Linked DNA regions of Homo sapiens. The protein of the gene in region 2 interacts with the protein of the main gene of each other region in a biochemical or structural test. Each region holds a gene or a part of one and is shown on either strand. Other genes may lie near its edges.

The links.
Region 1: the proteins of MAFA (region 2) and PDX1 form a complex in vitro, tested with the Homo sapiens proteins (one study listed by BioGRID).
Region 3: of the proteins of MAFA (region 2) and HERC4, one has a biochemical effect on the other in vitro, tested with the Homo sapiens proteins (one study listed by BioGRID).

Annotation. Positions count from the first base shown.
Region 1 is NC_000013.11:27,917,816-27,921,635, reverse strand, and holds the start of PDX1 (pancreas/duodenum homeobox protein 1), read right to left. Parts: upstream 1,637-3,820; 5' UTR 1,498-1,636; coding exon 1,092-1,497; intron 1-1,091. UniProt on the Homo sapiens protein: Activates insulin, somatostatin, glucokinase, islet amyloid polypeptide and glucose transporter type 2 gene transcription. Particularly involved in glucose-dependent regulation of insulin gene transcription.
Region 2 is NC_000008.11:143,428,716-143,432,535, forward strand, and holds the start of MAFA (transcription factor MafA), read right to left. Parts: upstream 2,018-3,820; 5' UTR 1,692-2,017; coding exon 630-1,691; 3' UTR 1-629. UniProt on the Homo sapiens protein: Transcription factor that activates insulin gene expression. Acts synergistically with NEUROD1/BETA2 and PDX1. Binds the insulin enhancer C1/RIPE3b element. Binds to consensus TRE-type MARE 5'-TGCTGACTCAGCA-3' DNA sequence.
Region 3 is NC_000010.11:67,921,684-67,925,283, reverse strand, and holds the end of HERC4 (probable E3 ubiquitin-protein ligase HERC4), read left to right. Parts: intron 1-96; coding exon 97-199; intron 200-2,144; coding exon 2,145-2,353; 3' UTR 2,354-3,379; downstream 3,380-3,600. UniProt on the Homo sapiens protein: Probable E3 ubiquitin-protein ligase involved in either protein trafficking or in the distribution of cellular structures. Required for spermatozoon maturation and fertility, and for the removal of the cytoplasmic droplet of the spermatozoon.

The DNA.
Region 1 (3,820 bases), on a different chromosome or scaffold from region 2:
CAGATGGGCGCTGAGGATTTTCGGGGTGGGCCGGGGGACGCCGGCTCGAGCTGCTTCCCCCTACTCCCGGCTGCCAGTTGAAAGGAAAAGGCAACTATTTGCGGTGCAGGTGTGACCAGAAGTGGCTGAGGCACGGCAGCGATGACAGTGAGTAGCGGCGACGACACAGGCCGCGCCGGAACTTGCCGCTCGCGCGGGGCCGCAAAGGACCCGGGGGCTACCCCGTGCCTCCGGCTCCCGGCTCCGGGAAAGACCTTCTGTTCTCTGCCGGCGCGGAGGGCCGCAGGAACCAGGCCTCTCGCCTCCCCACCAGCTAGGCAGGGAGCGCCCATCTCCTGAAAAATTACTTCCTGGGAAGCGGTGCGGGGAGACAGCTTCAATTGCTTTCGGTTGGTGAAAAACGAATTCGCTTCTCAGATTGCTCTCCTAGCTGCCAGGCTCTGACGTTGAGAGGCCGGCTTTCAGCCTCGCGGTGAGCCCCCGCCTTGCCCCAGCCCCTTCCTCTTTACTCCTATCCTGTTTCCACAACCAGGGCAGCCGGACACTGCTGGGTTGGGTGCAGTTTCCTTTCCCTCCCTGCCTTTCTGCACCTACCTGGCGCCCCTAGATGCCTGCCCTTCCTTAACGAAGCGCGGGAAGTGAGGGGCTCCGGGGCTCCGAAGGCGATCTGGGGCCTGGGTCCGAGGCACCCATGTCCCTACTCGGCTTCCTCGATGTGCACTACCAAGGAGTCCTGGGTTCCCGGATCCCCTGCTGGAGGAGGATCTGTAGTGTCCGAAGCCCTGAGCAGGACTCAGCCTCGGCTCTCTAAGGATGGCGCTGGGAGCGCGGGCTCCTGGGGCGAAGATGGGCTCAGCGAACAGGGAAGGAAGGAGTGTACACTCCCAGGAGAGCTGGGTGGGAAAGATGCTTCAAACTGGACTAGAGAAGCACTGCTGTGAGGGATGGGCTCGGTAGCTCCCTGATGTAGTTTAGTCCGACCCGGGATAATCCAAGGCGCCGGGAACAGAGAGAAGGCTCCTGGGAGCGCTTGGAGGTAAGGCGGCCGGGTGAGAACCGGAAAGGAGAAAGGGGTGGGGAGCCAGGCTTACCTGCCCACTGGCCTTTCCACGCGTGAGCTTTGGTAGACTTCATCCATGGGAAAGGCAGCTGGACGCGGTTGGGCTCCTCCAGGACGCCCGGCTCGGCTCCCTCCGGGAAGGGCCCGGCGGGCGGGTGGGGGAGCGCGAGCTGAGCCGGGAGGTGGTGGTGAAGGTGCGCCACCGCGGGGTCGTCGGCGAGGGGGGGCACCTCGTACGGGGAGATGTCCGGGGGGCTGCCCTGCTCCAGCGCGCCCAGGGCGCCAGGGAACGGGTGCGGCGGCGGCGGCGGGGGCTGGCGGCCCATGTACAGGCACGCAGGGGGGCTGGCGCTGAACTCCGGCGCCGGGCCTCGCTGGAACGCGCATGGGTCCTTGTAAAGCTGCGTGGCCGCGTAGTACTGCTCCTCGCCGTTCATGGCTGCGGCCCGGGATTGGGCACCGGGAGCCGGGAGCCGGGAGCCGGGAGTCGGGAGCTGGAGCCGGGGATTTGGCACTGTGTGGCGTTCCCACTCCCGGCGCCACCCCTGCTCGCTTTGACAGCTCCGCACTGATCTCAGAGGGAACCCACAGCCAGCGCGGACCGGCGGGCCGGCCGCCGCACCATAGGCTCCGCGGGGCCCCACGTGGTTCAGCCGGGGGCCGTGATTGGCCTGGCTGGCCGCACTAAGAGGCTAGGCCCAGGTACCCGCGAGCACCTGCTTTTGTTCCAATTTTCTCTCTCAGCTGAGTTTGCTGCACACTCCTGAACGGGCAGCTGGCGGTGCTCCCCAAAATGGGCGCTCACGAAAACATTAGAACCACTCATTTATAGAAACATTTTCACCGTGGCTTAAAAGTTTCTATTTTCCTATATTTTTCTATTTTCTATTTTCCTATATTTTTTCTATTATATTTGATAATGGACATAGTGTGTTTGTTAATTGATGTAGTTTACAAGGAGACATGTTGAGTTTTTAATTTTTTATTTAACTGTTGCGGAATACGATAAAAAAAAAGTTTGCAGACCCAGCTCTCTAGGTCAGAAGCATTTGATTCTATTTTATTTATGAAGTTTGTTCACAGCCACAAAGATGTCGGTTAAAAAACACACGAAACTCTGGCATTCGTTGTGTGTTTTTACTTGTGGATGTGCTGCAAGTACTTCTGGGGTGTAAACGGTAACTTCTGAAGCATTCACAGAGACTTTTTTAAATTCTTTTTTTTAAAAAATTGAAGGGTATTACAAATTTGGGTTTTGGAAAATTGGGGCCCATTTGGCCAGCCCGGAACGTAGCTTCCCAATACAGCGAGGGGGAAAGACGCGGCCTTCCTCTTGGGGCTGCGAAGCAGGGGCAGGTGTTGGCACGGGGGTTCCAGACCCTTGACGACTCTCTACGGGCCGGGACCCTGGCGGAGTTTGCCGGCAGAGAACACTCACTCTCTTCTGCTTGCAATTGAAATAAGGCAAGCAGGAGAGGGGGAAGTGGAGGAAGAGTTACATATTTAGAAAAAGAAATAAAAACGCTGCATTTTCCATGATAACATCTGTGCTTGGCTTCAAACCATTCAGTAACTTCTGGGCATTCTGGGGTCCTGACTTAAACAGGGCCACTTTTTCTGCACCCACTGACGCGGATGGATGACCTCCGGGTGGCGGTGACGTCCAACCCCCTGCCTGGGCATGATCCGCTAGGCCTGGCGGCCTGACCAGCCTCTGACTGGATACTCCCGAAATGAGGACGTTTCTCGAAACGCCACCGTGGGTTTTAGAAAAACTAGACAGCTTTGCAGAAACGTCTCAGCAAGAGAGAGCTTGAACCACAAAGAACCAAGCCAGAGAAAAATCACTGCTCCGCCTTTCCTAAACAACGCACCAACATCCAGACCTTTGAGAGTCAATCTTAATGTATTTCTTTCTTCCTACTGGAAATATTTGTGTTTTAAGTGCGGATTGAGTGCTCTATTCTGAGGACTCTTTATTTTTATTAAAAGACAAAAAAGCCAGTCGGGAATGTGGACTTCTCTGCAGATTCCTTCTCTTGCGGGAGGCCGGTATAGTCTCAGCATTTGCTTCGATGTGTGAGAACTCATGTGTGTGGCTTCCTGGCCTGTGGCCTCATGTGTGTGGCTCTGATGTGTGGCTCCCTGGCTTGTAGATGCCCTTGCTGTCACCGAAGACAGGCCAAGGGAAGCACGGCGGCGGGCGGGGAGAGTTTCGGTGATTTCTTCAGGGAAAAGTGCCACCTGCAGTTTTGGTGGGGGCAGAGAGTGAAAGGCCGTGGGGCCCGGGCACCTAATCTCTGTGCGCCCGCGTCAATGAGTCCATTGTCTGCGGCCGCGGAGAACTCTACCCTATCACCCTGGCCGCGAGTGACCACATCGATCAGGAGGGCAGGCTGGAGGGGGTTGCCTGGCCGCGGCGTGTTGACCCTTGGAGATAATCTGCCGAGTCGCCGAGGGTTGACTTGGCGACGCGGTTATGAGCGGACGGCAAGCTCCGCTCAGGACAAAGATCGGCCACTTTTCCCCTCCCCCTCCTTTTCCTCCCCCTTCCCCTCCTCCCTGGGCACCCCTACACCCACTCTGGACTCAGTCTGCGCCCCACTCTCCCTCCCCTGCTCCCTGCCTCGCCTGCCACCCCCGGAGTGTTTACTTTGCACTTCTCAACTAATTGCACATTTCTGTAAATTGGTCTCCATTTCGATGCTTCATTTGCTTCCATTTAATATTTTTGCTCGGCCCTGCAGAAAGAAAAGAGGC
Region 2 (3,820 bases):
CCGGTAGCAGGGTCGGGGGCAAGCGGGGAGGGGGCAGGCAGGGGCCGGGCCCCTCCTGGCGAGCGACTCATGCTGTGACTCGCGACTGAGGGCGGACCCCGGCTGGGGAAAGAAGGGGCTTCCTCCAAGGTTTTCTTTTCTAATCACCAAGCATAATAATTATAAATACTTCGAAAATAAGACCGATTTTAAAACGGGGAGGGGAAGTTAAAAAAGGCAAGGAAAGGGAGGCTGAGAAGAGAACGAAGGAGGGCGGGGGCAGGCAGGGGCCACCCGGGAAGGGACGGCAGCGCGGTCCCTCTAGGCTGGCAGGGCGAAGGTGGGAACGGAGAACCACGTTCAACGTATGTACAAGCGGACGCTTGGAAAGAAGTTAGACCTGGCTCAAGTTTCCTTAGAAATCACCGTTCTCCGCTCAACCTCAGGACGGCGACCCGGGCCGACGCGCGCGAACGGGGACCGGGAGCGAAGGGGCCTCCAGCCCCGCGCCCGCAGACTTGGCACCGGGGCCAGCACGGCCGGGCCGGGCCTGGTGTCCACGTCCTGTACCGCGGAGTCCGAGCCGAGGCCCCGAGAGGCCTGCGCGAACTTGTCCCCGGCGACGGCGGCGCGGGCTCGGGGTCCGGCGCCTACAGGAAGAAGTCGGCCGTGCCCTTGGCCCCGCCGGGACCGGCCTGCGGCGGCGAAGGCTCCCGCGGGAAACCGGCCCCGCCCGCGCTCCCGGGGCCGCCCCGGCCCGCCAGCTTCTCGTATTTCTCCTTGTACAGGTCCCGCTCTTTGGCCAGGCGCCCCACCTCCAGCTTCAGCTGCTCCACCTGGCTCTGGAGTTGGCACTTCTCGCTCTCCAGAATGTGCCGCTGCTGCACCCGCTTGAAGCGGCAGGACTGCGCGTAGCCGCGGTTCTTGAGCGTGCGCCGCTTCTGCTTGAGCCGGATGACCTCCTCCTTGCTGAAGCCGCGGAGCTGCCGGTTCAGCTCGCGCACCGACATGGACACCAGCTGGTCGTCGGAGAAGCGCTCCTCCAGGCGCACGTGGTGGCCCGCGCCACCGCCGTGTCCCGCGCCGCCATGGTGGTGGTGGTGGTGGTGGTGGTGGTGGGCGGCGTGGTGATGGTGGGCGGCGTGGTGCGCGCCGTGGTGGTGGCCGGCGCCCATGTCGTCCGCTCCGCCGCCGCCCGCGAAGCCCGGGCCGCGGAAAGCCTCGTAGGCTGCGGCGGCCGCCGGGTGGTGCGCGCCGTGGTGCGCGCCGTGGTGGCCGCTGCCGATGAGCGCCTCCACCGCGTCCTCGGGCGTCAGGTTGAGCGCCTCGGGGTTGAGGTGATGCTGGTAGCCGCTCATCCAGTACAGATCCTCCAGCGCCGGCTTCCCCGAGGTGCCCCCGACGGCGCCGGGGCCCCCGCTCGGCGGCCCGGGGGCGCCCCCGGCCTGAGACGAGCCGCCGCCGCCCCCCGCGCCGCCGCCGCCGCCGGTGCCCGGGCTGGGCGCGCAGAAGCTGGGCGAGGAGGGCACGGAGGAGCAGGGCGTGCTGAGCGGCGTCGAGGACAGCGAGCCTGGCGGCAGGCGGTGGCAGAAGCGCTCGGCCTCGGGAGGCTCCTTCTTCACCTCGAACTTCATCAGGTCGAAGTCGTTGACGTACTCGATGGCCAGCGGGCTGCTGGGCAGCTCGGCGCCCATCGCCAGCTCCGCGGCCATCGCCCGGGGCCCGCGCCCGGCCGCGCCCCGACGGGCGGCGTGGGAGTGGGGGGGGAGCTGCAGGCCTCTCCCCCCCCTGCTCCCCGCGGGCGGCGGTCCCGGCGGGGGCGGGGGGGCGCCGGCGCGGGGCGGCGGCGCCGAGGGGCGCAGGGAAAAGTTTCACGTGGTCAACTCCGGGGCGGCGCGCTAGGGGCACCGCTGGCCAGGTGTCTCGGGCGACCCCGGGCCCGCGTCGCCGCCTCCTCCCCGCGGCCGCCGCCTCGGGCTGCTCCGGGACCGCTCCCGCGCCCCACCCGCGCCGCCGGCCGGCCCCGCCTCCCACGGCTAAACGCGAAGCCGCGCGCGCCCCTTTATAGAGCCGGGTGCCTGGGCCCGCCTCCCCGGGAGGGGCGCGCGCCCCCGGGCCAATCGGAGCCCCAGCCCCGCCGCCCTCATTTGCTTATCCCCATGGCAACTCAGAGCCCAGCTGTCAATCTCCTGCGGGAAACAGCTGTGGGAAGAGGTAGGGACGGGCCGCCGGCTAGAGGAGAGGGCAGGGCCCTCTGGTGGCCATCACGGGGCACTGCACGGGCAGAGGGCGCGCCGCCTCAGGGGACAACTGCCGTCTCCAGGGGCCTCAGCTCCCACACCCGGCGGCCGGAGAGTCCGGGGAAGCAGACGGGGACCGCGCCCGGGGACCCCCTCGGGGCCTCGTCCGCCTCGGGCCACGCGGCGGGACGCCCCCTCGGCCCCCTGGGTTTGCGGCCGGGCCTGGGGGCCGGGGGCAGCTCCGCTAGCGGCGGCGGCGGCGGCAGCGGGACCTCCGGGCCTCTGGACACGGGTGACACCGCGCGGCCCGGCAGAGCGCGGCGCGCTGAGCCGGTTATTTTTAGCCCGCGGCTCAGACGCGTTCAGGAATTTGGTCAACAAAGTTGCCGGCACCTCCGGGCACCGGGAAGCACGGGGCGGGCGGAGGGGGACACACGCGTGCGGGGCGGCGCGAGGGGCCGGGGACGGAGGGCCGGCTTGTGGGGGGCCGCGGAGAGCGCAGGACTGTGGGGGTCGCGGGACAACGCGGGTGGGTGCGAGCGGCGGGGGCGGGGCCCACGGGCTGGCAGCCCCTCAGGGCGTTAGGAATCCCCGCCCAAGCGGCCACCACTGCCCACTTTCGCCCCCCGCAGGGCTGGAGGCGCCTTGCTGGGCCTGGAGTGGGACGGGGGGTAACTGAGACGGGAAGGCGGGGATTTCCACCTGGCGGCCGTGCACCTGCTGGGAGGAGACGGCTCCGGTTCACGGGGCAAAGGAGGTGACGATGGGCGGTGGGCCTGTGACCCCAGGTCCCCGACACCAGCGAGCCGGGTGATGGGAGGGTTGCGCCAGGAGTTACAAGGCCGGTGACCCGAAGTGGGCCTATTGTTTCTTCTCGAAATTCTCTCCATTGCTGTTCTATGACTTCAGCAATTTAAAAAAAAAAAAAAAAAGTCTAAAATGTAACCACCTGTGTAGAGAAAAAAAGCCTGGAAGGAGTTGCGCAGAGGCCACAGGGAGGCCTGGTCACGGCGCCGCAGATTTAGTACCAGGCTCTCACCTCCTTCCCTCTACAAAGATCTATTGTTTTGTAACAAGAAGACTGTCATGAAGTGAGGACTGAACATCTGCTTCCTAAGGTGTCTCGGGGTGTCCCTGGCCCTTCCCTGGGCCCTCCCACTCCTCTGGGCAGAGCTGGGACTGCTGATTTGGGAAGACCAGGCCTTCCTCCCCGCAAGGGAGGGCCAAGGACAGCATGAGGACCCACCTGCAGGGACCCCTCTCCCCCGATCCTGTCCCAGAGGGGGCTCTGAGCTCCCCACCCTTCTACAGATGAAGAAATGAAGTGGGCATGCAGCAGAGCCAAGTCCCCACACTGGGTACCTGGACTTGAGACCACACGAGTGGTCAGCCAGCCAGGGGTGTGGGGTTTCCTTTATGGCACCCCGTGTTGAGAGGGAGGCCCGGGAAGGGAGGATGCCGCCGCGCAGTGGAGCTGGTGGTAGTCCAGGTTGTCTGCACCTGCAGCCCCAGGAGAGGCCTTGGGGCTACAGGGCCCTCCCACGGCCCCTCCAAGGGTCTAGCAGCATTTCTGGGTACCACACCCTGGAGGCCCTGGGGCA
Region 3 (3,600 bases), on a different chromosome or scaffold from region 2:
GCACAAGTTGCAAACTACTGGACCATGTTAGCTTTATGTGCTAATATATTAGCCAGTGTGTCCCTTAATACTAATAAAAGATTATGTTGTTTTTAGAATACAGAATACAAAGGGGAATATTGGGCAGAACATCCTACGATAAAAATTTTTTGGGAAGTATTTCACGAATTACCATTGGAAAAGAAGAAACAGTTTCTGTGTAAGTATTTCTAACTAGTTGTATACTTTATGAGACTGGAATCTAATTATAGTATTATTCCAAAGCCCTGTTTTAATCTTCAAGTAATTTTTTTGAAACAGAACTATCTGCACTCTTCAGTACATGTATTTTCTTATTTCAAAGGCTAAATTCAGTTTGCCTTCAAAATAGCATTGATTCATTCTATGAAGTAAAATGGAAGCTAACTTGGAAATGAAAGCAAACTATAGCTATGTTATAGTTACAATAAACTGTGGTTACAATAAACTAGGATTGTAGAATTCCTTTTAGATTTCTAAAAAGATCTCTGGAGTATAGTCATCCTTTGGCATACATGGGGGATTGATTCCAAGACCTCCCTGCCAAGGATACCCAAATCCAGTAGATGCTCAAGTTTCTTGTATAAATTGGCATAGTATTTGCATATAACCTACACATATCCTTATACTTTAAATCTTCTCTAGATTACAGTCATGTGCCACATAATGACTTTTCAGTGAATGACAGACCATATATACGATAGTGGTCCTGTAAGATTATAATACAGCTACTGTACCTTTTCTATGTTTAGATACACAAATACCTACTGTTATGTTACAGTTACCTACAGAATTCAGTACAGTAACATGCTGTACAGGTTTGTAGCCTAGGAGCAATAGGGCTATATCATGTAGCCTAGGTGTGTAGTAGACTATATACTGTCTAGGTTGTGTAAATATATGATGTTTACAGAATGAAATCACCTAATGATGCATTTCTCAGAACATATCATCATCGTTAAGTGACACATGAATGTACATGTTATTAATACCTCATACAATGTAAATGCTATGTAAATAGTTGTTATACTGTATTGTTGAGGGACCAATGTCAAGAAAAACAGTTGACACATTCAGTACAGTCACAAGCATCCATTTTTTGAAAATATTTTCGATTTGCAGTCGGTTCAATCCATGGATACAGAGCTCACAGATACGGAGGGCCAACTGTATTGCTCTTTTCTCTGTTTGGTCTTCATTTTCTTTTTCTTTTTCTTTTTGCTTCAAGACTAAAACTTTGGCAATTTCTATATAAAATAAAGCTTTTTCAGGCCTTAGTTCCCTCATTTATAACTGATGCCTGTGTATCTTTCTTCTGTTAAAGTCTGTATTCTAATTGAAATTTGACTTATTTTTAAAGTTGTCAGAATTTATGTGTCCAAATCGGTGACATTTCCTTTGATACTCCTGCTTTTGCCAGGAATGATTTGGCAACCTCCGAGAATCTTGGTCAAATTCTTCTGTGTGTCATAAGGATGAGAAATCATTACTCTTTAAGAGTGATTTGAGCCTGGGCAACATGGCAAAACCTCATCTCTATAAAAATTAGCCCTGGGCTTGGTGACTGTGCTCCCAGCTACTCCAGAAGCTGAGGTAGAGAGGATTGCTTGAGCCCAGGAGGTCGAGGCTGCTGTGACTGTGACCGCACACTGCACTCCAGCCTGGGCAACTGAGCAAGACTCGTCTCAAAAAAAAAAGAATGATTTGAATTTTGGCTGCCCATTATAAATTTCTGATTTAAAAAAAATAACAGAAACGAAGCAAATAGAAAAAGAAATCATAATCAAAACTGCATTTTGTATTTGGTTTGTCAACTAGTTCTGAATGGCTTTTCCAAAAAAGGGCTCTCAAAATGTTTTGGCAATGGCAAAATACTCACTTATCAAACATTTATTAAGCACTTCCTTTGTGCCAGTATTAAGATTATACTTTTAAAGAAAAAATATTGTGTGGATGAGCAATTAGAATGTGTCTCAAAAAACTTGTCTTCCACAAATTAGGAAGTAAGATAACACGTTAGAGCAGATGTTAAAGTGAAGCTCTGCTGTAGCGACTGTACCAAATATTACTTGCTACTGTATCTTTTTGTTTTGAAGTGGTTGACTGAATGATTTCTTTCTTGGCAGTATTTTTGACAGGTAGTGATCGCATTCCTATTCTTGGTATGAAGAGTCTGAAACTAGTCATCCAGTCCACAGGAGGTGGTGAGGAGTATCTCCCAGTTTCCCATACTTGTTTTAATCTTCTGGATCTTCCAAAATATACAGAAAAAGAAACTCTACGCTCTAAACTGATCCAAGCTATTGATCACAATGAAGGCTTCAGTTTAATATAACTTTGGAGTTATAACTATTCAGTTTAGTGCAAAAGCATTAAACTATTTGTGTTTTTCTTGTGGTGATGAATTCAGCAAGGTGACAGAGGTACTATTATAATTCTTACTTGCAGAATGTTCAATCTACGAGTGTTCATGGAAGCCAAAAAATATTAAAGGAAAATGAACAAACTGTTAATATTATTGTACAGAACCATGGATTTTTTTTGACCATCTTCTAATAAACATAGCAAGTATTATGAATACATTAAAGTTTTACTAACATGAATTTTAAGAGTTTGCATATTTCAGAAATGATCTGGTGTGAGTGCATGGAAATATTGCTTAATTTTTCTTCAATCATTGAGTGAAAAACCTTTAACTTTGGCCTGCAATAGTCATTTGATTATTTTTTCATTTTGTAAATAATGTTAAGTTTTGTAATAAAATAGTTATGTTCTGATACCAGTACAGTTTCTATGGTTGTAATTGAACTTGAACAGACTTTTAAAGGTTAAAAATTATGATTTAAATCTTACTCTGAGACTCTATAAAAAGAAAAAAAAGGTAGCATGGTGGAAACACTATCTTTTCTTTTTTGCTAGAATAAGTGTCTTTGTGCAAACCTAAATCACAGATAGGGAATATACTACATAACCTGCAGTTCTTTTCTTTGTGAATCCTGACACACTGATAGATGGGGGATTGTCGATCAGAGAACTTATTAATATTTAGTACTGGAAGAACTCTGTCTCCACAGTTGCCAGTAATAAAAAGAAACATTGGCTACTATGAGCACCAATCACTGGGTTATAGCTTTCAAAATTATTGATGCTGCAGTGCTTTAGAGCTATTTCCTTGAATTTAAGAAACAAATCTTAACAGTTTTATGGTGCTGATGCTTAGTTGTCTCATGCCATTAAATTGTAAAAGTGAGTTGATGCAATACATGTGACTTTCTGCTATAATGCAAATATTTATTTTTTAAATTTATTTTAAAATGCCGTGAAAACTGTTTAATAAAGATTTATTGTTTTAATATTTAAACTTTCAGTGGTTCTCATATAAGAGTCAAAATTTTTCAAAAAGAGGGATGGTTCAGGGAAGGTCTCTTAAATTTCGGATGACTTGTTTCTATTCCTACATGAATTTATAGAGGTCCACAGTCTCTTAACCTGCAATTCTAAAATTTAAAAAAACTGAAAAGAATATTGTCATCTCTCACTTTGCAGAAAAACCTGATCTGAATTGTTGAAGCTATTTATGGT